Linked DNA regions of Homo sapiens: all the other regions are linked to region 2. The links come from fine-mapping of genetic effects on gene expression. A gene starts in region 2. Each other region holds a variant in brackets. All regions are shown on one strand. Distances are between the middles of the regions.

Evidence for each region. PIP is the estimated chance that this variant, and not a neighbour inherited with it, causes the effect.
Region 1: its variant is the best candidate, but not a certain one, in a credible set for the expression of SNX9 in whole blood (INTERVAL, PIP 0.55).
Region 3: its variant is the best candidate, but not a certain one, in a credible set for the expression of SNX9 in fibroblasts (GTEx, PIP 0.82).

Annotation. Positions count from the first base shown.
Region 1 is chr6:157,871,967-157,880,289 of GRCh38, reverse strand. SNX9 (sorting nexin 9) reads right to left here. Exons shown (of 18, transcript NM_016224.5): 3 at 7,114-7,188; 4 at 5,114-5,239. Among named protein-coding and RNA genes, the nearest start is that of SNX9-AS1, 17 kb to the left of the region's middle. RefSeq lists a silencer at 6,410-6,479. The variant G/A (reference allele first, on the strand shown) is at 4,999.
Region 2 is chr6:157,818,704-157,827,026 of GRCh38, reverse strand. It overlaps SNX9 (sorting nexin 9), which reads right to left and starts at 3,781. Exons shown (of 18, transcript NM_016224.5): 1 at 3,581-3,781. The coding sequence starts at 3,592. RefSeq lists an enhancer at 2,953-3,002 and a silencer at 3,653-3,972.
Region 3 is chr6:157,766,885-157,775,207 of GRCh38, reverse strand. No RefSeq gene overlaps it. Among named protein-coding and RNA genes, the nearest start is that of SNX9, 52 kb to the left of the region's middle. The variant A/G (reference allele first, on the strand shown) is at 4,072.

The DNA of each region.
Region 1 (8,323 bases), 53 kb before region 2:
TGAAATATCTTCCATGTGTCCGGCACTACTTTATATTGGTGGCCTAATCCACTGACTATTCAGGAGGTTCAGGAGGCAGGTCTTATGCCAAAGCCACAATTCTTACACAGTGGAGCCGCACTGGCAAGCCTGGATCTAACAGCAAAGCTTACATGCTTCCCACCACACCACTCACCTGGGGACTGGCGGGGTGTGAAACAGAAAAACAGAGAGATGCCAGGGAGAGCATGTGACAGAGGCCAGAAGGGCTCTCAGCAAAACAAAAGCAGCTTTATTCCAAGTATACACATCTTTCTAGTATTTGAAGGAGACAGAAAACAAACCTCTCAAGTAGAAAACCTTCAGATAAGACATCTAGGTTTACAGAACTTTTAAGTAGCTTTTAAACCTCATTGTTCTCATTCTTTAGAAAGGTACAAACAAAAACTTTCTATTAATTTCTCAAAAGTAAGTACTCTAAAGAAGCAGTAATCTGAGAGTTTAAGATCTATACTGAAACCTTTTCAGAATCACAGCAGTGATGTAATCTAAACAACAATAACTGATGAAAAACAAGACTAGCACACACAGGAGTAGAGATTTTTAACAATTGAGATTCATTCCCATCAGCTGGTCCATTCATTCTAGTGGTTCAGCCACTAACGTGAAATACTCTTGAAACTGTGAAATAACCGATAAGTAACTAATAATGAAACTAATATTAACCACTAAAAACTATGCTTTCTTTTCAAAGGTAATAAAATGGTTGTCCTTATCTGGGTAATATAAAATCTGTATTTGAATAAGAAAATGAAGAGAGTTTGATTCAGTTCCTGGGTATCCTTCAATACATTTTCTACACACTTTGCATCTATGGTGTGTGTGTATGTGTGTGCACTGAAACACAAGAAAGATAACATTACCCATACTGAGGTGCCTTTTAAAAAAATCATACCTCTATCTGTACATCTAAATCTACCCTCACTCTCCCTAAGGGAAGCTCAGCTTTCCACTGCGTGGCTGCCTATAGTTCATCTGATCAGTCCCCTGCTGACAGACATTTACATTCCGGTTTTCTGCTGTTACAAACAATGCCGTAGGAAACGTTCTTGCCCAGAAACCTGCGTTCTGCGAGCAGATCTGCAGGAGGAACTCAGAACCGCTGGGCCTTAGAGATATGCATTGTAAATACTCATATACATTACCGAACCAGCCCCGAAAAGCTTCATCACTTTATCCTTTCCCTCGCTTTGTATGACATTGCCTGTCTGACCACACCTGTATGACACTAGCTTTTAAACTGTTTTCATTCTCTGCTAGTTTGATAGAAGAATCTTAAAATGAGCATTTTCCCAAGTATATTAACTATTAGTACCTTCCCCCACCAAAGGACAGCCTGTTTATACACTTTACCTATTTTTCTGAATTCTTCATCTTTTTCTTACAGATTAGCAAGAGTGTATGTATATGAATGGAATTAGCCTGTATCCGTCATAAGTCAGAAGTATTTTTGCTAATTTAATATTACTTGTTTACTTAAATGTATCAATTATATCCTTAATGGCCACTAGACTTTGTGCTGTCAGTCTCAGAAAGGGCTTCCATAGGCCGGATGCAATTGGGAGGCTGAAGTGGGCGGATCACAAGGTCAGGAGTTTGAGACCAGCCTGGCCAATATGGTGAAACCCCATCTCTACCAAAAATACAAAAATTACCTGGGCGTAGTGGCGGGCACCTGTAGTCCCAGCTACTCAGGAGATTGACGCAGGAGAATCATTTGAACCCAGGAGGAGGCAGAGGTTGCAGTGAGCTGACATCACGCCACTGCACTCCAGCCTGAGCGACTGAGCGAGACTCCGTCTCAAAAAAAAAAAAAAAATGGTGGGCTTCCATATTCCAAGATCATAAAAAAAATGCTGTCTATTATTTTCTCCAAGTAGTTTAATAAACAGCTTTATAATTTTCCAAATCAAACTGTTTCAGTCCATTTAAAGAACAACTCATCATATTCCTTTCACACTGACAATTCTAGTCTAAACTGCAGCCAAGCTGAACTGCGTTTTGGCTGATAAAGCGTTTTCTCACCACCAAAAGAGGAAAGCAATCACAGTGGGCCAGGGACCTGGATGCAGCAACACTGCCTTGACACCAGCAACTCTGCTCACCTGAGACTACTCAGTAAGAATCTAGAACCAAAGGGTCCCCCAAGCAACCTGAAATTAGGAGTTTTAAGAAAAACCAAAAGAAAGTGCTATCTTACATAGTAGGTTATACATTTATGAACTAGTTACTCTGAAATGCAGCACAGATTAAGAATACAAAGTCAAGGAAAGAGTAGCAGGCTCGAAATAAGTTATTCAAAGAGATCTTTAAAAAGATATACTTAAAGAAAAATACGACACTCAGGAAGTTGGATAACCAACTGAATGTGGGGCTTCAACTTGCTTGTGTGGGAGGAGAGTCAAATTTAAACTTACTGATGCTAAGATGAGTAAAGAGACACTGGCTCAGAAGTTGGCAGAGTGTGCCAAGCTGAAGAGATGCATGCCTGAGAGGGGATGTGCCCATGGGCCTGATGGACAGGAGAGAGGCCCAGCTTCTCTGAGGTTCCCGCTCTCAAAACAAAACCGACCCTGGGAGAGAGCACAGGCAATCAGAGCCTCCCAAGCAGCTCACCTCAGAGCACACATCTTCCTACCCGCATTCAGAAAATGAAAGCAATGGGCAAACCTGATAGGAAAATGTTTAAAAAGCTACCAATTAATGGTCATCTGGTTTCCTACTCGTGACATCTTTCATGGTATTTACAAAATGTACCCAAATTTTGGCCTACTTAAATTGTTCTCATATCCCAGATAACAGAGGGCAGAGATAGCAGTTAAAATATTTTTACTTGATTTACATTAAATTCAAATGCTCAAATTAATGACGGCTATGCTTTCTGCATTTTGTTAATTCTAGTTTCAGTTCATTTTTCTTTGCTTTCAAAGGATCTGATTAGATTCAATGTTAGACTAGATGCCCCCCCCGCTTTTTTTTTCTTTTATTACCTTCTAAATAACCTAAACGAAACAAATTTTAGACTTATACCAGTTTATATTAAACTACAAGTAAATACCAAGGAATATATTTCCTAACAGAACATGACTTAAATCTGAGTTTTAATTTCTTTTCATTAGCTAAACTGCCTCCACCTATCTTGAGATAATAGCTGGTCAGTCCCTAGAATTAAAATAAGATAAATATTTCTATTTTTTGTTTGCCTCACTTATTCTATGATCTCATTACCTCATTACAATTCTTTTATTAAAATCTTGTCCTTTATTAATGCAAACCCATTTCATGGGTGCTTCTGTATAACTCAGTGAATCTCAACTGGCTTGGCTTTGCTCCTAGGCAACACTTGGCTATATCTGGAGACATTTTTGGTTGTCACAACTGAGGTGGCGTGCATGTGACTGGCACCTGGTAGGTAGAAGCTAGGAAGGCTGCTCAATATCCTGCAGTGCCCAGGATGGGCCCGCCCCACTAGGAAAGGGCGCGGGGCCTCAAACGGCAATGAGGCTCAGGTTGAGAACCCCTGGGAAAACTTCCAGTGAGGTATAACTACTATTCACGTTTCACAGTGAGTAACCCTTACCTGGCCAATGTTCTCAAGTAGTATAGAATAATAAAATACAGAAGAGAATTCTTCAATTACAGTGATCAATCACCTTGCCTGCAAATTTTAAATATCTGAGTCTAATTTGTAATTCAGAATGTCTACAAAAAGCTGTTTTGAAATGTATAAAACCTGCAGTTAGTATATGGTGATAAACTTATATAAACTCACTTGGAAGGTCAATTGACAGATATTCTTTTTCTTTTGAGGAGTCTCACTCGCCCAGGCTGGAGTACAGTGGCACGATCTCGGCTTACTGCAGTGGCCGCCTCCCAGTTCAAGTCATTCTCCTGCTTCAGCCCCCCGAGCAGCTTGGATTACAGGTGCCTGCCACCACACCTAGCTAATTTTTGTATTTTTAGTAGAGATGGGGTTTCACCATGTTGGCCAGGATGGTCTCAAACTCCTGAACTCAGGTGATCCGCCCGCCTCGGCCTCCCAAAGTGCTGGTGGGATTACAGGCGTGAGCCACTGTGCCTGGCTAATAAACAGATATTTTATAAGCAAATACTTGTAAGTGATATGATTATCATCAGGCCTGATAGAATTTAAAACCTTTTATGTAGTTAAAAAAAAAATCAAGAAATAACATCTCCTAAAGCCCATTCATTTCTAAAGATGTAAGCAGTTAACAATATTTTAATTCTTTTTTTTTAACTTTTTTTTTAACGTGTGGAGATGGGGTTTCATCGTGTTGCCCAGGCTTGTCTCGAACTCCAGCACTCAAGCAATCCACCTGCCTTGGCCTCCCAAAGTGCTGGGATTACAGGCGTGAGCTACTGTGCCCAGCAGCAACAATATTTTGATACCTGTCTTCTCAATTTTCTTCTTGTCACTTACTCTGTGTCATCATTTGGCAATAAATGAACTAGACAAATTCACCTAAACTAGTCAAATTTTAATTAAAATTAATGTAAAATTTCCTTGTATTCTTCTCAAGTTATCCCACTATTCTAAGTTTCCTGGAAGCAATACAATAAGAGTACCAAGTGCTGAGTGCCTGGATCTGGTAGACTTTCACAGGCACTGCTTCTACTCGCAGGATGAGGGCCTCTAGCTCTGAGAGTGTAAGCAACATGCCAGGGCCAGGGCATCTATTTCCTGATCCAGGCCGAGGCTCTGACACTGACCTCCTCAACAACAAGAGCCTCCTCTTCTTCCTCTTCTTTCCATGCCTTTATCTAAGAGGGTATTTGCAGTTTCTGGGGTCTGTGTTCATATCATGACAGACTTCTAAAAGCAACCCTCAATACCCTGCCTTTTCTCTTATAATAAATTTTGCAAACAGTCATTATCAGGCTTAACAGGTGATTTCTTTGTTAGTACCCAACAGAAATGCCACAGAACAACCTAAAAGC[G/A]ACTTTGTTTTTGCTTTTGGGGAATGGCAATAGCTATAATGCATCACAAGCCTTCACAAATACGCTCTGTTTTCCGTAAAGCCAGCCACATCCAGAAGGAGGAAGTGAGACGTACCTGGTGATTGTTGCTGGCAGCCGACGAACTGGCCTGAGCTGTGCTGGCTGAGAGAGAATCAAGGAAGGCTTGGTCAGCCACTGAATTTCCACAAGAAAATTGATCTTTTCCATCACTGGGTAAAATCTGAATAGGAGAAAGAGCCGCAATTATTTTCATAGATTACGGTCACTTCAGGGAGTCTTCGAGGGCAAGCAAGAATTGTCAAAAAGGGTTTATATTCTTCAATGCTACAAATTTCTCTGTAAGCACTGCTTTTGCCGCATACTCATATTTTAATGGGTTGTATTTTCATTTTTATTTAGTTCAAACTATTTTTTAATTTCTCGAGATTTCTTCTTTGATCCATGCATTATTTAGAAGTGGATTGTTCAATCTCTAAGTATTTACAGATTTTCCATCTATCTTTCTGTTTTGATTTCTAGTGTGATTCCATTGTGGTCTCAGGGCAGACACTGTATGATTTCTTTCAAACATGTTGAGGTATGTTTTATGGCTCAGAATATGTGGTCTGTCTTAGAGAATGTTCCATGTAAGCTTGAAAAGAATGTGTATGCTGCTGTGGTTTGATGAAGCAGTCTATAGATGTCCCTAAGTGGACATCAATTTATTGATGGTGCTGAGTTCAACCACGTCCTTACTGATTTTCTGCCTGCAGGATCTATTTCTAATAGAGGGGGTTTTATATTCTTAAAGGTAAGCAAACCCAAGAATATCTGTAATCACTATTCCTTTATATAAGCAGAATCCTAGAAAATCCAATTACTGCCAATATCAACTTAAATTCTCAGATTTTTCTCAATCTTGTCAATTTGTGGGCTCCTGGATGCAAAGTGCATACAAGTAAAACAAGACTTCAACATAAGACCTACGGAGTGAGGCCAGGGGCCTGTGAATAGGGGGTTGCAGTTGTATGGAAAAGGCTGTGGTGTGTGCATGGGCACACGTTTCTGAGGGAAAGCCTAGAGATTGCATCGGATTCTCTGAGGGGTCATGACTCCCCACCCTCACTGTCTATCAACAACAGAAGGACGGCCTTAGATCTCACTCTGCAGACAGGTCCCAGGTAAACATCCTCTGGGGGGAATTCTTTTCTCCTGGAGGTGAACCAAAGGTACCTTTATTCTTGATCTAGCTCCAGTTGTACTCACAGGGCATCAGGAAACCTTCGCTTCTTTCTGTCACCCAACATGAAAGACAAGCTTACCAAGAACCTTCGCTCGGTTTGGAGGGACCGAAAGACAACCAGCAGGGGGCGCCAGGTGGTTGGCTCAGCTTGGGGGTGTCCCAGGCAGGACCAGCCCAGGCTGCTGTGTTGCTCTCCTGGGTATCCATCCTAACAGCTCTACCCAGGAGATCCCCACAGCAGCTCCCCCAAGACACCCCTCTGTCTATGGGAATGGGAGAAGGAACTGAGATATGCACTTAAAAAAATCTATTTAAACTGTGAGTCTATTGTACAATAAACAATATTATAGATGGCAGCAATATCAGCAAAGGAAAAATACGTTATATGTGTCATATTATAAATATATATCTATATTTATAATTTATATAATTTATAATACATTTTATAAAATTTATATATTTTGCTTATAAAAATATAAATATATATTTAAAATGTATATATTAACAGATATATTGAGATATAATTTCATATATCTTATTGAATTTATACAATTTATAATATATATTTATAATATAGATAATATTAGCAAAGGAAAAATACTAACTTTTATTCAGACCAATTAAAAGTTGCTATCCCTGGAAGAAACTTAACCTAAATATCTGTAGTCATTCTTTGAAGCTTGGGTCTACAGGTAATATTTTTCTTAGTTCTATTTCAATGTAGTTTCCATATTTTATATAGTTAACATTTATTATATTTACAATGGAAATTTTGTTTTGCAAAAAGTTGCTGACTTCTTGTAAGTTGATAATTCATAAAAAGATGCCTGGCAAAGATGAGCTCTAATGAATGAATGACAGGAAGCTCTTACTTCAACGTAGTCTGTGGGAACCAGCCCTCGTTCTCCTTTGATGTTTCTTCCTTCCAGCCATCCTCCACCTACATCCTAATAAGTCACCAAAAAAAAAAAAAAAAGAAAAAGATTACAGTTGAGATTTCCTGGAGAAATTTTGTGTGGAGGAATTGTTATACATAAAAAAAGCAATTAACATTAAGCTTTTCATTCCTAGAGAACACCGTTCAAAATCTTAAATTCTTAAGCCTTCTCTTTACTTCAGAAAATGATGTAACCTAAAAACAAGAAAAATCAAACTTCAATAATAAGTGATCAAAGATTGAAAACAGCTGATGATTAGATGACCCTCATCTTGTCTGTGTACTGGTCTGCGGCAGATAATAAAAGTGGCTTGCAGCTCTGAATGTGAAGCGGTGGGATGCGCATCCCAGGCCTGGAATCTGCCCTCTGCCACCTCGCTGGTCAACAGAATCAAGTGGAAATCCTCCAGGGAATCCAGAACCTTGCCTCAAGGGCTTCTGCACACTTCAGCTGACTCTTCTGGCACCCAAGTCGCTATACGAATTAATGTGGGTTGCTAGATGATGACAGAGACCCAGTCTCCCTGTTGCCCCATTCAAAGCCAGCCAACCCAGAGAACTGGCAGACTCATGAGTGAGGCTACCTTAGACCAGTCAGTCCCCAGCAGGGTCCAGTGATTGCAGACACACGCAGTGCAGCTCAGGAGAACCATCAAGCTGACTTGTAGATTCCTAAGCAGTAACAAATGGTTACTGGGTTAAACTAGTAAGTTTTAGGATTGTTATGCAGAAAAAGTGAACTGATCCATGGTTCCTCAGTTCTTCTGGATAAATAATATTAATAAACTAAGTAATAAAGTAGAACTCTATATCCCAGTATTGCCATTTCAATCTATGATCAAAGGAAAAATTGTAACTTTTATTCAGAATAGAAGTTGCTATCCTTGGAAGAAACTTTATCTAAATATTAAACTATTAATGTTGATATTATTATTAATTATTAACAATGTTAAGGGGCAGGTCCCACTTTCTCATCTTAACATAGTAAGAGTTTTTACAGTTTTAAAATAATGCCCTAATTAGTTAATAATCTGAATCTGAATAATCACATTCTCTTAAAAAATCACTTTAAGCCACAACTTTTGTCACTTTCTGACCACAATAGCAACTTGAGGACAAGTTGCTATTTTACCAAGAAAAATTAA
Region 2 (8,323 bases):
TATATTATATAAACTATAATATATATGTATATATTATATAAACTATAATATATATGTATATATTATATAAACTATAATATATTTTATATATTATATAAACTATAATATATTTTATATATTATATAAACTATAATATATATTTATATATTATATAAACTATAATATATATTTATATATAAAATATAATATATATATAAAATATAATATATATTTATATATAAAATATAATATATATATATAATATAATATATTTATATATCATATATATATAAAACCTATAATATAAATAGGTTATATTTTGGCTGGGTCGAAATATAACCTTTGGAGGCTTCCAATAAAGGTCAAGACTAAAATGCTCTGCAGCTTTTGTATTAATATTTGTAAAACAAGACTTGATTGCACTGAGTGAGTGTATACACTTAAACTGAATGCAGCACTCTACTGAGTAAGGAGTAGAAATAGAAAATAGATAATCCCCTTAAAATGTGCAGTTACTGATTAACTTTCCTTTTTTTTTTTTTTTTCTTGAGATGGAGTCTCACTCTGTCACCCAGGCTGGAGTGCAGTGGCGCAAAATCGGCTCACTGCAAGTTCTGCCTCCCGGGTTCACGCTATTCTCCTGCCTCAGCCTCCCGAGTAGCTGGGACTACAGGCGCCCGCCACCACGCCCAGCTAATTTTTTTTGTATTTTTAGTATAGATGGAGTTTCACCGTGTTAGCCAGGATGGTCTCGATCTCCCGACCTCGTGATCCGCCCGCCTCGGCCTCCCAAAGTGCTAGGATTACAGGCGTGAGACGGCGCCCGACCCTGATTAACTTTCTTTAGCAGTGAAGGACTGTCAAACTAAAGTTCTTCTTCTAAAAGATAATTTCCTTTTTTATTGTAAAATATAGTAGTGGAGTTTTTAAAAATCCCAATAGTTCAGTGATAACCACATCCTTAATACGTAAGAACAAACAAGAAAATTGTATCTGAAGATACTATAGCCAAGTCTCTGATAAATTCAAAGGGAAATCGACATCCCTTAAAATATCCAGATACTGAATTTACTTTTCATCAGTTAATACTTATAGCAACAGCCTGAGTGCCACTGGAGCCTACATTTTTATTAAAAGTTAGTCATTACTACTAAGCACATTCTCCCCACCCCTTGAAGAAGACAAAGAAAAAACACAACTACTCAGGTGTGGGGAAGGAGTGTGCATATGGGGGAAGGGAGGAAAGCACCAACTTGACTCTCTGGGAACAATTAAAAAATGAGACTTTGGTTTGACACAAGAATCACCAGCATGTCAGAAAACAAAGGAAGGGTCTTCTTTTAATAACTGCTTCGTTGCTCTTCTTTTTCTTAAAATGGAAATGGTTTGTCACAATGTAAACATGGAAATGAGCACCATGTGGAACAGTGATTAGGCAGCCGAAAGAAACTAACAGAACTACTGGAATTTGCCTTTGGAGTGGTGTAGATAACGAAGTAGGAAGTCCTTACGCATGCTTTAAGGCTCGTGTTTAATCAAAGACACATGCAATTCGAGATTAATATACAAGAACCACTTTTCGATTTTTTGGAAAAAAATTAAGTTCAGGATTAACTATGAAATAAAAATTTCACTATATATACCTGCACTAGTTGCTAAACTGCATTCCACTTAAAGGACAGTACAGATAACATGCCTCAGTAGACCAGAGTGTAAAAACACACTGACCACCACTAGACAGATCTCTATGTCATAAACCGTCTTCTCTTTTTTCAAACGGAGTCTCGTCTTTTCTTTTTTCAAACGGAGTCTCGCTCTGTCGCCCAGGCTGGAGTGCAGTGGCGCGATCTCGGATCACTGCAACCTCCGCCTCCCGGGTTCAAGCGATTCTCCTGCCTCAGCCTCCAGAGCAGCTGGGGCTACAGGCGCGCGCCACCACGCCCAGCTAATTTCTGTATTTTTAGTAGAGACAGGGTTTCACCATATTGGCCAGGCTTGTCTCGAGCTCCCGACCTCAGGTGAACCACCCACCGCGGCCTCCCAAAGTGCTGGAATTACAGGTGGGAGTGAGCCACCGCGCCCGGCCTATAAACCGCTTTTAAGGTTGCAAGATGAGCATGTACTAGGATGTGTAACTGGTAATTTCTGGAATGTCTGGCAACAAACCTCAAAATCAAATTTCCTTAGAAATCCTTGGCCTAAGTTTTATTTTTAAAAAGGTCAACACAAAATTAATACGTTAAAAAGGTGGCAAGTTCTATCGCATTAATAAAACCAAAGCACAGCACAGGCAATAATATATTAACAAGAAGGTAATTATTTCAGTAACAGCAGCAACAGGTTCCCTGGAGGAGAATCCCCATTTCTCTACAAACGCTGCACCTAGATGGATTCAGAGCACAAAATTTACCACAGCACAACATCTAGCAGACCGAAGTCAAGCAATGCTGATCTTTCAAAGAGATTTCACATTTCTTACCATTTTCTACCTTAACACTCCACAAAAAAAGCAAACACCTATCGAAAAATAAAAAATAACGTTTCTAGCAACCCAAAAGTAGCTCAGAGATCTCAAAAACAAATAGACAAAGGGGTGCTGATGCTAACAAAGTGACATTACAAAAACTAAGTGCAAAAGTAAACCCACTCCTCACAGTGTATCACAGATCAGTTAATGGCTCAGGTATAGAGCCTCCTCCCCCAGGTCCTCCCTTCCGTGACCGTGACTTCCCCAGTGGCTATTCTACATCAAGTAACTACTGAAAACGCCCAAGGAAAAGGAGCGGGGGAGGGTGGCTTTTGAAAATTCAGGTAGCCAAGAGTGACTGCTAATTTCATAAACAATAACGTAAAACAAGCAAACCACCGCTCCTAGCCAATGACGAAGCAGGAGTCAAAGTTCCACCACGTAATTCGGGCCTGGGCCTTTTTTCAGGCAAACACGTAATCGAAAGCACAGTCATTTCCCTCTTGATATTTTATTCATGCCGGCAATGCCATTCACAATGAAAAGGTAGCAAAACAAAAGAAAAAAATAACAGCAGCGAAGGCAAAGGGGCGCGGGGCGTCCCAGCCTCGGTCCCTCCCCGGCCGCGAGCCCCCGCAGGCCGGGACGGGAAGCGCCGCGTCCTCTCCGCCGAGGTCTCGACCCCCACCCGCCCCGCGGGGGCGAGGGTCCCCCAGGCGGCAGCGGGAGGGGACGTGGGGGCGGCGGGGACGCCGGACGCCACAGAGCGCCAGTCGCCTCGGGGGCCTCCCCGGGCTGCGGGAAGTTTCCGTCCCGCGGCCCCTCCCGGCGAGCCCGCCGCAGCCCACGCTCAGGTGCAAACTTCCCAAACCTCGCTGCGCCCGGGGTCCCAACCCGCGCCCAGACCCGACGCCGTCCCCCGGTGCGATCCTGGTGGTCTGTCTGCACTGCCCGCCGCACCCATGCCCAGAAGGGACTGGCTGGGCCGCGGACCCGCCCGGGGACTCCACCGAGGAAGCGGAGTGGCCCCTCGACCACCCCTGGCCCCGACCCTCCCCGCGGCCCCGGCCCCGACCCTCTCCGCGCCGCCCCGGGCCTGAGCGACCGGCCCGGCCTGCGCCGCGCGCCCCTCACCTTGGTGGCCATGGCGGGCGGGTCCCCCGGCCCGGGACGGCCGGCTCGTCTCCCGCGCCGCGGATGGTGATTCTGAGCCGCGCAGGCAAAGGCAAGGGCGAGGGCGGCGGCTCCGGCTGGGCCCCGGCGCGGCGGCCGCTCCTCCGCCTCGGCCCCGAGTCTCGACGCTCAGGCCCAGCCGCTGGGCGCTCGGCTACTCCCGCGCCGCACGCTCCTGCAGTTCCTGAAAGTCCCCGGCTGCGCGGCCCCCGCCCCTGTCGGCCGAGCCTCCCATTTACCGCGGCGCGCGCGACGCCCGCCGGAAGCGCGCCCTGGGCCCTCGGCCGCGGCCCGGCCTCCTCGCCTCCTGGCCGCCCCCGCGCCGCGCCGCCGCCCCGGGCAGTCACCGCCGCCGCCGCCGCCGCCGCCCCCGGGCGCCCTTGGTCGAGGCTGGGAGCGGCGTCCCGCGCAGCGGCGGGGTCCGGACGGGCGCCCCAGGCCATGGCCCGCAACCCTGCGTGGCCGCCCCAGGGGAAGCGATCCGCGGCCCACAGAGCCGCTCGGGGTAGCCGAACCCCGACTCCGGTTCACGCTCGGCCGGCGCCGCACGCCGTGGCTCGGCGCTTTCCGTGCATGAGGCGGGAGGGGGCGGCAGGAACTCTCGACGCCCCGGGCAGACAGGAGCCCCGCAACCCCGCTGTCTTTGCCCCACGCCTGGGGTGTTGCGGGGTCGCCGTGCCCTTGGCCGAGTACCCTGAGTACCACATAAACAGCTGGGAAGGAGCGGAGCGATGGCTTCCTGGGCCTCTTCCTCCTGCCCGGAGGCTCCCTCAGGCCGGGGTCCTGGCTTGAAGCCCCTGGGACGGGACGGTGGGGGGTTTCGTTCTGTGACGCCCCGTTAACCTCATTCTGGAATCTTGATAAGCTTAAAAATACCGGAGGGCCCGAGAGGTTTGGGGGACAACAGGCTCTCTGAAGTGGAAACGAGGTCTCTAAAATTTTCCATCTTTCTGTCAGTGTTTCTTTCCAGAGTTGGAGATATATATATGGGTGTTATGAATAAACGAATGACTTGAATTGAGCAGCAAGATTTTTCACTCAAGGACAAAACACGACTGGAAGATGTGTCTTAATTGGCATACTAGTGGAGTGCTTTTTTATTATTATGAGGGATATATTTGTAAGAAGAGACAACTATCAAATGTAAATCTCTGGTGTTTAATGTCAAGTTTGTGTCTTCTTAAATACATTCTATTTGACCTGAGATTTCACTAGTTATATTCAATAATGGGGTTTAAAATAGATACGGTATTGCAGAATTTTCTGTGAATTTTTGTGTTTGTTGAGCTCATGGTTAAGCTATAGTCATCATAATATGCATAAATAGTTGTCTTTCTCCGTAAAAAAAAATATTGGGAGGCCAACATTCATTGACGGCCTGCTTGCTGTATACTAGGCTTCCACATCCCCATCTCATTTAATCCTTATAAGAAACATTTGAGAAACTCATTATTGTCCACTGTTTACAAAGAAGAGCGACTCAGGGATCACTTAAATAACTTGCCCATTTGGTAATACTTATTCAAATCGAAAATGACCGTAGCCTTGGACCCAGCAGCCCTCCTGGGAATTTATCCTGTCAAACACTTGTACAAGTGTTCAAAGATGTTCATCAAAGATTGTTCTGTAATAACTCCAACCAGAAAGCAACCTATGTGTTTGTTAACAGGACTGTTTCAGTAAATAAGATACATCCATTCAAACAAAAATACTAGGAAGCCCGTAAGAAAATGATAATATTCTAAGAGGTGTTAAGAAAGATAAAAAGAACATTATGTATGGTACATTTATGTAAAAAAAAAAAAAAAAAGGAAATATGTGACACATTCCTAGAAAATTTCTGAGAAAGATTCGCCAGATCCTGTTGTCAGAGTTTTTGACCATGTGTATATATGACTTCATTTAAAAACAGCAGTTATATTTTAATAAACAATGGAAGAAATAACTTGGCTAAGAGCACACACTAGTATGTGGAAAAGCCAGGATTTGAACTCAGGCAATGTCATAAGTAATGAGTTTTCCATATTCTTTTAAATGTGAAGGCTGGGTACAGCTCTCTCTGCAGCCGTTCAACAATGCATCCCTTGATAGGAAGGTGCAAAGTTAGGGGCACACCTGTGAAGACAGGCCTTTCCACATGCTCATCTGGCAAATCCTATGCAAATAGTCATCCTGGGCACCCAGCACCATGAAAGCAAGAAGACTAGAGACTTCAAGCTTTTCCCACCAGAACAATTTCATAACCCTGGTTTTATTTTTTAGAAGTAATGGTGGAGGGCTAAGGTGGAAGGATTGCTTAAGCCCAGGTGTTCAACACCAGCCTGGGCAACATAGTGAGACCTCATTTCTAGAAGTTTTTTGTTGTTGTTGTTGTTTTAAAAAGAGCAAGACTGTGAAAAACAAATGAAAAAGTACATAAACAGAGATAAACATGGCCGGGCGCTGTGGCTCACGCCTGTAATCCCAGCACTTTGGGAGGCTGCGGCGGGCGGGTCACGAGGTGAAGAGATCGAAACCATCCTGGCCAACATGGTGAAACCCCGTCTCTACTAAAAATACAAAAATTAGCTGGGCATGGTGGCACGCGCCTGTAGTCCCAGCTACTCAGGAGGCTGAGGCAGGAGAATCACTTGAACCCGGAAGGCGGAGGTTGCAGTGGGCCGAGATCGAGCCACTGCACTCCAGCCTGGGCAAGACTCCGACTCAAAAAAAAAAAAAAAAAAAAAGAGATAAACATGTGCACTTTCACAATAAGCCACACCGAAGGGATCTTGAACATAACTAAAATCTTTTTCACATTTTTAGTAATGAATTGGGTAGTATATCTCCAGTAAATACTGCTAAACTTAGGAGTTTTATTTTTATATACGTCAGTCAAAATCAACATTACTTCATGAATGTTATAGAGGAGACCCACTTTCATAGAATATATTTGTATATAGAGAGAGAGACTGGGTCTTGTTCTGTCACCCAGGCTGGAGTGCAGTGGCCCAATCTCGGCTCACTGCAGCCTCCGCCTCCCAGGTTCAAGTGATTCTCCTGCCTCAGCCTCCGCAGTAGCTGGGATTACGGGCACCTGCCACCATGCCTGGCTAAGTTTTTTTTTATTTTTTATTTTTTATTTTTAGTAGAGACAGGGTTTTGCCACGTTGGCCAGGCTGGTCTCAAACTCCTTATCCTAAGTGATCCGTCTGCCTCAGCCTCCCAAAGTGCTGGGATTACAGTCGTGAGCCACTGCACCCGGTGGTGGCGTTTGTCTTCTGCTCCCACTTGATCAACCATGCATATCTCTCTTCTGTCCACCTCCGTCCTTTGAGCGAGCTTCCTTAGAGTTGATTCTCTACGCAGGCCTGCCTTTAGAACCCAGAACCCAGAACCCTGGGCCATGCTAAGTTCAGATTTTCTTCTACAGCATGAACTTCCATTACTCCAGGGGTGAGAACACAATTAGTTAAGCAATTGGATTTGCATTTGCAGACTGCGTTTGGTTATTACTAGATTGCACTTTCAAAAGAAAAAGACCTGGAGGCAGAGCAACAGAGCCACTCTGTTTAGGCTTTGTACTCTAGCTGCTTTTTTTTTTTTTTTTTTTGAATCATGCCACAGGAGGTAAAGTGATTAGGATTCACAGGAAGCTTCGTCCAGCCACACAGCTGGGGGGACAGGAAAATAATGACCACCACCTCTTCCCTGCGTTTGTTCAGTATGGCCAGGTGTTTTTATTCAAAATTAGATTCTCCTTTGGTTTTTAAGAGCTCAGAGCCCAACTAAATGCTTGGTCAACTAATGGGAAACTAGCATGGGAAAGTGCAACTATGGGAACTAATGTGGAACGGAGTGAAAATGTGTGATGGTCACCTAATGTAAGGATCGGAGGATGAGAATAATGTGTAACAATACAGAGTCAGCCTGGGTCTGGCACAAGGGGATACCTCCTCTCACTTTAGGGCATGAATTTAATGAGGTTAAAGAAAACCTTGGGGTGACCTTGAAAATAAACGTGGAAAGGAGTGCAGCTGGTGCCATTCCAATCCTAATAAACGTATGACGTCCTCACCTTGGACTGGATGCTGTTACAGGTGAGGGAGACAAAAGTCCCTGCTCTCTTAGAACTTAACAATCTGTAGAGGGTGGGGGAAGTCAATAAACTACAAATAAATGTCTAATGTGCCAGGTGCTTTTATAAGTGCTCTGAAGAATCTTTATAGGAATAAAGAGAAGCAGGAGAGGTTTTTTCCTATAAGGTTTCCCCTTGGCATTAGACTAGCTGAATGTATGTATGAAAAGTGTATGGTTTTAAAATTATGTTTGTTTTAGTTGGTTAGCTGATTGGTTGGTTTTCATTTTTGTTCCATTTTGACTAAGTCACATTTCTTTCTCCATCGTCTGGGAGACACAGAGCCGTAAACAGTAACGGGACATAGTGTCCAGAACTAGAAATTGAGCAGAAATCTGACTGCTAGGACCTGAGCAGTCCAGGAAGGGACAGTTGGCATGGGCAGAGAGAGACTGGAGGCTAGGGAGGCTGCATGGATGGCAGAGGTGGCAGCAGCAGGCGGTGTTAGGCTGGAACAGGAACCGTTTGCTCAAGGTTCTATACTAGACTGTTTGCTGAGTTTGGGTAGTTCCGACTCCCAGAAGGACTGAGCTGTGAGGTGAGGGCAGCAAGAGAAGATTGGCTCACCAGTTGGCTTCCCAAATGAA
Region 3 (8,323 bases), 52 kb after region 2:
TTTGTATTTTTAGTGGAGATTGGGTTTCACTATATGTTGGCCAGGCTGGTCTCAAACTCTTGACCTCAGGTGATCCACCCATCTCGGCCTCCCAAAGTACTGGGATTACAGGTGTGAGCCACTGCACCTGGCCCCTGCTAAAGTCTTTGCATGGCGTTTGTGTTGATCAGCAACACAGCCGGCCCTGGGAAACTGAACTGTCTTCCCCATTGTTTACCCACTGCCATAGGAAAGAGCCACTGAGGACTTCCCTGAGACTGGGATAGCACGAGACAGAGGTGCTGTGCCTCATCACTGCACTGTGACCACTGGCCTTGCATTCACGGGACTAGGGGGAATTAAAAGACAGGCCTCACACCTGCTTTGGACAGACAGTGGGAAGAAGTGTGATCCCTCTCTCCCTCTCCCCAGGCCATCGGGGAGGGTGGAGCACATTTCAGAAGATGAGGTTTGTCCTGGGTCTCAAGGGAGATGAGCAGCGAAGAGAGCAGAAAGCACAGCAGATGTGAAGGCTTCGGAGGTGAGGGGTTGCAGCATGGACCAATGCAAGAGGAAATGTGATCCGGCGCTCCTCCCAGCTTTCCCCCAAGTATGCCAGAGGAAGGAGACCCCGGCAGGTGTGCAGAGACCTGTCTGTTGCAGACGGGGCCATTCCTAAGGCAGACACGTGGGTCGATGACCGCAGGGCCTTCCTCCCCCTATCTGAGGCAGATCGCCCCATCTGTGCTCTGCCCCTCACCCTCCACTTCACCTTGGAAGCCCCCCTCCTTATCTTCAACCTCCTCCTCTCTACGGCTTCCTCCCACCAGTGTGGAACCCACTCATGCTCACATCTGTTCCACTTACAAAGATGCTTTCTCTCCTGGGCATCCCCTCCAGCTGTAGCCTCTCACTTCTAGCCCAACTCTCACCTTCCCTCCCACATCCCTCCTCCACTACCCCACCTCCTCCACTCCCCCACCTCCTCCACTCCTCCACCTCCTCCACTCCCCTGGAAAGTCTCTTTCCCAATCCCTTCCTCACTGCCAAGCCCAGTGCAGCTTGGCTGGCCTTTCCATTGGGTCCTCTCCCTCTGGGCTGCGTCTGCCTCTTTCTCTCTGACCCTATCCCTTTGCGGTCCCCTGGGCAGGCTCCTCTGCCCTTGTGCACCTTCATCTCAAGTTGGCTCTCGTCTGTTCAGTCCAGACGCTTTCTTCATGGGATCTCAGGGTCTGTGCAGACTTCCAGTTCTCCAAACTCCAGAGAGGGTGTCCAGGAATATCAAATTGTTCACTCGCAGTTTCTCCAATTAATCGTGCCATAGCACCTCACCTTTAACACGTGCACAGGCGACCTCATCACCTCCGCTGGAGCCTGCTCTCTGCTCCTGCTCAAAAACAACACTTTGGCTCCCCATACTCTGACATCCTTCACCTCTTAACGTCCTCCCTCCTCCAATCCAACTCAGCACCTTATCCTGCCATCAAGTGCATGTACTGGAAATCTAGACGCTGCTCAGACTGTCCCATCCCAGTTGCCTCCTCCCTGATCTTGGGGATTGATCATCTCTTCCCTGGACGGCAGCCAAAGCTCCCTAACTGACATCCTTGCAATGCATTTTGCCCCTTTCAGTTTTGCTTTTCACATGTTAAGTCTTCTGACATGCAAATGTCTCCTTATATTGCTGCTGCCCTTTAAACCGTTCCATGGCTTCTCATCGCCCTCAGGAAAACTTACGCTGAACCTCTTACTTGTGCACAAGGCCCTACTTGTTCTGGCTCCTGCCGAGGTCGCCTGGCTCACCTGCTACCTACCTCCACCCCCACTGCAGACTTCTTCCACGTGCCTCTGGACATGTGACCTCTGCACCTCGGCTGCCTCTGTGCAGTGGGCTGGGACCCGTCCACTGTGTCCACAGTGTAGCTGGGGCCTAGCACCCTGGCTGCAGTCAAGGAGGGACCCAGTCAGTATTTGAGGTGAATGAATATTCTTTCCTGATCAATTTGTGTTGTTTTCTTCTTGACTTTTACTTAATTAAAAAAAATACGATTAAGGGAAGCATGACATGAGAAAGGATTGTAGGTGTCTTCTCTTAGGAGAGTAAACATGAAACAATGGAGGCTGAATGTGTTTAGAGGATAAATATGCTCACCAGTATCTCAGCTGGAATTGCCTTAGTGACGACATCATCACTTTCCCTCAGATGTGGATGTCGAGTTTGTAATACCAAGAACCGTTGGGAGAAGCTCCCGTCGTCTGCTTTCTCGTCTCTCCCCACCATTCTCCCTGGGTGGCCTTATCCGTGTCCAGCTCCAGCTCACCCCTTATTCCCCCATGATCTCCATTTCCAGCCCAGATTATTTCCTAAGCTCCACGCTCTAGTGGCCTCCACGTGTTTCCACCCAAAGATTTCCCATATTGAGGCTCCTTACTTGGGCTCAATGTGCCTTAACCTAGTTTTCTTAACCTCACACTTTCTTAACCTCACACTTCTGTATTTTCCTATCTCAGGGAAGGTCCCTGGACTAGTTTCCTGGGCTGCCATAACAAACTACCACAAAGCAGGTGGCTTTAAAACAGCAGAAATGTATTCTCCCCCAGTTCTGAAGGCTGGAAGTCCAAAACCAAGGCGGCGTTGTGGCCATGCTCTCCCCAGAGGCTCTGGGGAAGGATTCGTCCTCACCTCGTCTGTTTCAGGCGCTGCCAGCGGGCTGTGCTGGTCCTTAGCCTGCGGATGCATCACCCCACTCTCTGCCTCCCTTTTCACTTGGCCTTCATCCCTGTGTTTGGCCCCCATTTTCTTTTCTTCTAGGGATGCCAATCATTGGACCTAGGGCCCACTTGGGGTCTATTCCAGCAAGACTTCATCTTAATTCGATGATATCTGCAAAGGCCGGCCCTATTTTCAAATAAGGTCACAGGTACTGGGCATTAGGACTTGAACATATCTTTTGGGGGACACAGTCCTACCTGCTGGGAGTCCCACTGCCTCCTTCACCCCAGAAATCCTTGACCCATCCCTGTCCTCTCCTTCACACTCCACATCTAGGCTGTTTATCCTATTTTTAAAATAGCTTTCATGTTTTCTCTGTCCTCCACTCCACTGTCTTAGTTCCAGCCCTAATCAAGCTAGATGACCATGACAGCACCCCTACTCTTCCTCTTTGCCCTTTTGAGTCCCCCCAACCCATCCTTCAGCCAGCATCCTGGTTCTTAAAATTTGGCTGCCGGGCCGGGTGCAGTGCCTCACGCCGGTAATCCCAGAACTTTGGGAGGCCAAAGCAGGCGGATCACTTGAGGTCAGGAGTTCGAGACCAGCCTGGCCAACGTGGTGAAACCTCTCTCTACTAAAAATACAAAAATTAGCTGGGAATGGTGGTGGGTGCCTGTAATCCCAGCTACTCCAGTGGGTGAGGCAGGAGAATGGCTTGAGCCTGGGAGGCGGAGTTTGCAGTGAGCCGAGATGATGCCACTGTACTCCAGCCTGGGTGACAGAGTGAGACTCCATCTTAAAAAAAAAAAAAATTGCCTACCAGCCAGCCCACTCTGGATATGTCCCTGGCAGCTCCTCCTGCGTGCATCTTGGGCGACACTATCTCATTGACTCATTCTCCACCATCCTTTCCACCTCGATTCCTCTTCTCTTCTGAGAATCAAAACCAGTTCCTACCATCTCTGAACATTTAACTGCCTGTTAGCAGCTATACTATTTTTAAAAATACAAGTTATTGAATAATTACGACATATATATTATAAATGTAAAGTAGATATTACATCCATTTGTGTGTGGGGAAACTGAGGTTCCCGTGGGTTAAGCAACTTGCTGAAGAGGGAGCTGATGTTTGAACCTAAAACTCTATGGCTTTAAAGCTCTTCCTATTAACTGTATTACTAGGCTTCAGAAGATTTAGCCTTGTAAATATCTGGAAGAGCTTGCCAAGTTTCCTGTTCTTATAATTTTTAGTATTTTATAGACACTGTCTGCTGTAAGTGAATATAAAACACCTAAAGAAATTCATGACGATGATCCATACCTCAGTCATAAATGACCCATACCTCAGTCATAAATCCATACCTTAGTCATAAATGACT[A/G]AGTTATTCTTAGTCATTTATTTTCTTATTTCATAGTGAACTAATAACTATTTGGTTCAGAGCCTACAGGCCTATCATATTTTGCATAGCAATCCTGGTGAATTTATAGACAGTTGCCTGAATAATGAGCTTATTGTGTTACATCTTAAGTTTTGGTAAAGCCTTCTCTCTTTTTTTCTCCTTGAAATAAATATAAGCATAGGTATATTCACAAATTGTCTTTTAAACCTTTACAACAATAATTTTATTTTCAGTGCAAATTTTGTTTAGCATGAGACTCAGGCATCCTATGAAATTCTTAGCCAAATAAAATAATAAATCTTTTTTTTTTTTTTTGAGAAGGAGTCTCGCTCTGTCACCCAGGCTGGAGTACAGTGGCGCGATCTCGGCTCACTGCAAGCTCTGCCTCCCAGGTTCATGCCATTCTCCTGCCTCAGCCTCCCAAGTAGCTGGGACTTAAAGGCGCCTGCCACCATGTCTGGCTAATTTTTTGTATTATTATTATTTTTTTTTAGTAGAGACGGGGTTTCACCGTGTTAGCCAGGGTGGTCTCGATCTCCTGACCTCGTGATCTGCCCGCCTTGGCCTCCCAAAGTGCTGGGATTACAAGCGTGAGCCACCGCACCCGGCCAATAAATCATTTTTAAAAAGTATTTTCTGGCAAATAGCTTACCCATTTGGTGTTGGCTTGAACTTGTGGAATTTCTTTAGTTTGACTTATTAAAGTAAATGAAACTTGGGTGAGGAAAATTCCTGTTTTACTCAGGCAGCCAACTCAAAGCTCATGTTATTGAAATGCCCTCAGTCTCCTGTCTCCATGGCTGGCGAGCAGGAAGTCTTCCATGCGTGCACTGCTCTGATGGACTTTATCCACACACCATCCCTGACACACTCACAGACACCATCGGCCCTGAGCTGGGCGCTGTGAGCCTCCCTCACACTCCTGTCCTGCCTGATGGTATCCACAAAAAATCTGGAGGCCTTGGATGGAGTCCACGTACCATTAGCTGTGCGAAATTCTGCATAGATCTGTGGAAAACGTTCAGCCCTGGGCAGGATCAGCTACATAATTTGCAGACCTGGTGCAAAATGAGACTGCATGACCTCTTGTTCAAATATTACTAAGCATTTCAAGATGGTGACAACATTTACTCAAGCACTGAGCCCAACCATGCGCTGGCTCAGCTCACCTGCCCGTGAAGCCAGCCATGCCCTGGGGGCTGCTGTTCTGCTTTCAGACCCCTGGTGCTCTCCTTCTTCAACCTGTTATCTGGGACCTCATTTTCACCTGCATTTGTCATCGATTTCCAAGCACTGCTGGGTGTGTGGCCTAGATCCCTCCCCACAACACACCCAGTGCTTCCCCTTCCACTGCCTCTCCACATGGGCCTCCACCAAAAATCCTCCACACAGGCCTCCAGACCTGGCCCTTTCTGTCCCTTCCTTCCTTCCCTGACATCCTCAGCTCCAGCCAGGCCTTCTCCGGCCTTGGTGTGTCTACTGTGGCTTTCTCCCACGCTGCCCTCGGGAGGGATGCTCCTGGCCCCTGAGCCTCCTTACAGGTGACCCCCTCTGCCTGAATCGCCCTTCCTCTCTGTCTTCCCCTGGCTGACGCTTACTCAGCCTTCAGGTCTTGACTTCAGCACAACATCCCCTGTCCTCCAGGAGCTTTCCCTTCCTCCGCAGACCAGGAGAAATCCCCTGGCTGCCCACGCCCCAGCGTGCTCTTCCTGCTGGTACAGCTCAGTGTATTTCCTGTCCACGAAGATGGGGGTGCCTGCGCCTGCATCAGAGTAGAACTCTGCAAAAATTTGTTGATTGTTGGTCGGATCGATGCCAGGCTCTCTGGTGAATTCAGTGTCACACACAGAGAGAACTGCTGTCACTTAGCAATGAGGGAAATGCAGTGCCTGCTGTTGCTGCTGCTGTTGCTGCATGGGAGGCCCGAGGAGCATCCTTGGAGCTGGTGGCTCTGCTGAAAGACAGCATGGCTCATCTGAACAAGTACTGCTCACCAAAGTGTCCACTGCTTGTGTTGCTATTAAGTGTGTATTTATTTATTTATTTATTTATTTATTTATTTATTTATTTATTTTTGGAACGGAGTCTTGCTCTGTCGTCCAGGCTGGAGTGCAGTGGTACAATCTCAGCTCACTGCAACCTCTGCCTCCCAGGTTCAAGTGATTCTCCTGCTCCAGCCTCCCGAGTAGCTGGGATTACAGGCTCCTGCCACCACTGCAGGCTAATTTTTGTATTTTTGGTAGAGACGGGGTTTCCCCATGTTGGCCAGGCTGGTCTCAAACTCTTGACCTCAGGTGATCCGCCTGCTTCAGCCTCCCAAAGTGCTGGGATTACAGGCTTGAGCCACCGCGCCCGGCCAATTGTGTTTTTAAAAAGTGACTTCTGAGATGATATGTGCGTTTCAAAATTTTCTTCTCTGTTTTTCTGGTTTGCAACAATATGCGTATGGTACTTTGATGGTCATGAGAAACAACTTGTCCCCAGGAAATTTTACGTTAAAAAAAGTACCAGGCAAGGGCAATTTGCTGTTAGGGTTCATTTGAATTGCAAATGTATTTCCTCTGGCTGGAAAGGGGAAACATCTTTCCTGACCTGCTCTACACCCCACAGAAGAAAGGGTATGAAGAGGAAGTGAAGTATGGTGTCAACGGTGCCAGTTCATCTGCTTCTAAAAACATTTATGTAAAAGTAAGAAGACAAAACAGCCATCGCGCTAAACCCAGGGTGCTGCTGAGCCCCAGGGTGGTGTTGACTGCTGCTGAGGTCCTGACCTGGGAGGAGAGTGAGGGCCGGGCCTTCAACTCCAAGGCCATGGCTGTAAGAAACAATCATTTCCAACCCCACTTAATTATCTCTCCCCAGTCACTTTCTTTCCTTCTGTTATATTTGTCTTCTGCCATGTAGGTAAAGGAAGGAAAAACAAAATTTAAGAAAAGTCTATGGAGTAGGTTAGGCGGGGGTTAGCGTGGATGGTGAGACCGAAGGGTCAGAGGAACATGAGACAGGTCAGACTGGGGTGGCCAACTGTCCCAGTTCACCTGGGACTGAGGAAGTACCTGGGCCTGAGACTCTTGTTTTAAAACTGGGATGGTCCTGGACAAACCAGGAAGAGTAGATCCCCCTACTCCCTGATGGCCTGTGAGGCAGCAGACATGGCCCAGCTGTCCCCCCAGGAGCCTCCACTCTGAGGTCACATGCCCTGCACCTCCCCATTGCACCCTCCGAGGGCCTCACAGTATTACCATTTACCAAGGCAGTTCTGGGAATCAATTCTGGCCTGACATTGGGAACCCAAGCCATACTTTCATCTTCAACATGTCACTTTTTAAACAATTTTCTAGAATGAAATTACTTTAACTTTTGTTTTAAAATGATTTGTGATTAAAGAGAAAACAGGATCTTCATATGAACTGAGATTGTGGTACATTTGAACAGTCAAAATTGTTCCGTTTAACTTGCATTGAATGCAAATTTCAGTTCCTAAAAAACCCAAATAAAGTAATAAATGTTCAGGGAAGGAGGTTTGATTTATCTCTTTCCCAAAATGATGACCTAGTAGGAAAATTGCTGATTGAGGAAAAACACATGGAAGGTTCGCGATAATGCAGGGACAGACTTCATGGCTGCTAGAGGGTCGCCATGAAAATAATTTGTGTCGGGCCCCACTTTCCACATACTACCCTCAGTCTTTCTAATGACCCCATGAGGTAGGTGCTGCCATCATCCTGGCTCTACAGATGAGAAAACTCGGAGCAGTGAAGTGGCCTGAGGACAGGCGTCCAGGCCTCACTGTCACCAGCGTTGACAGCATTCCCATCATGGCTTTGCTTCATCTTTTCTTATTCAAAGACAGAGAAAAGAAAGTCTGTTTCTACTTCTGTATGGCCCTTGTGCTAGCTCAACCGCTCAGAGCAGGGGAGTTAAAGTGCCAGCAAGCGAAATACCTCCAGCTGAGTACCAAAGATGAGACAGTCAGAGGCAGCTTCATATTGAAGGCAGATCCTCTGAGTATGTCTTTATTGGGGAACTGACATTTATAGATGACAAAGAGCTTTCACATTCATTAGGTCAAGGAGGAGAAGCAGCGCTAGTAACAGTTGAAGGAGTAATTAGTAATAGTAACAATAAAAGTACCTTTCATTTAGTACTTGTCACATACTGGGTACATTTACCTATATATATTTCTAATTTTCAAAACAACCCAATGAGGAAACTGAGACCCTGAACGTGG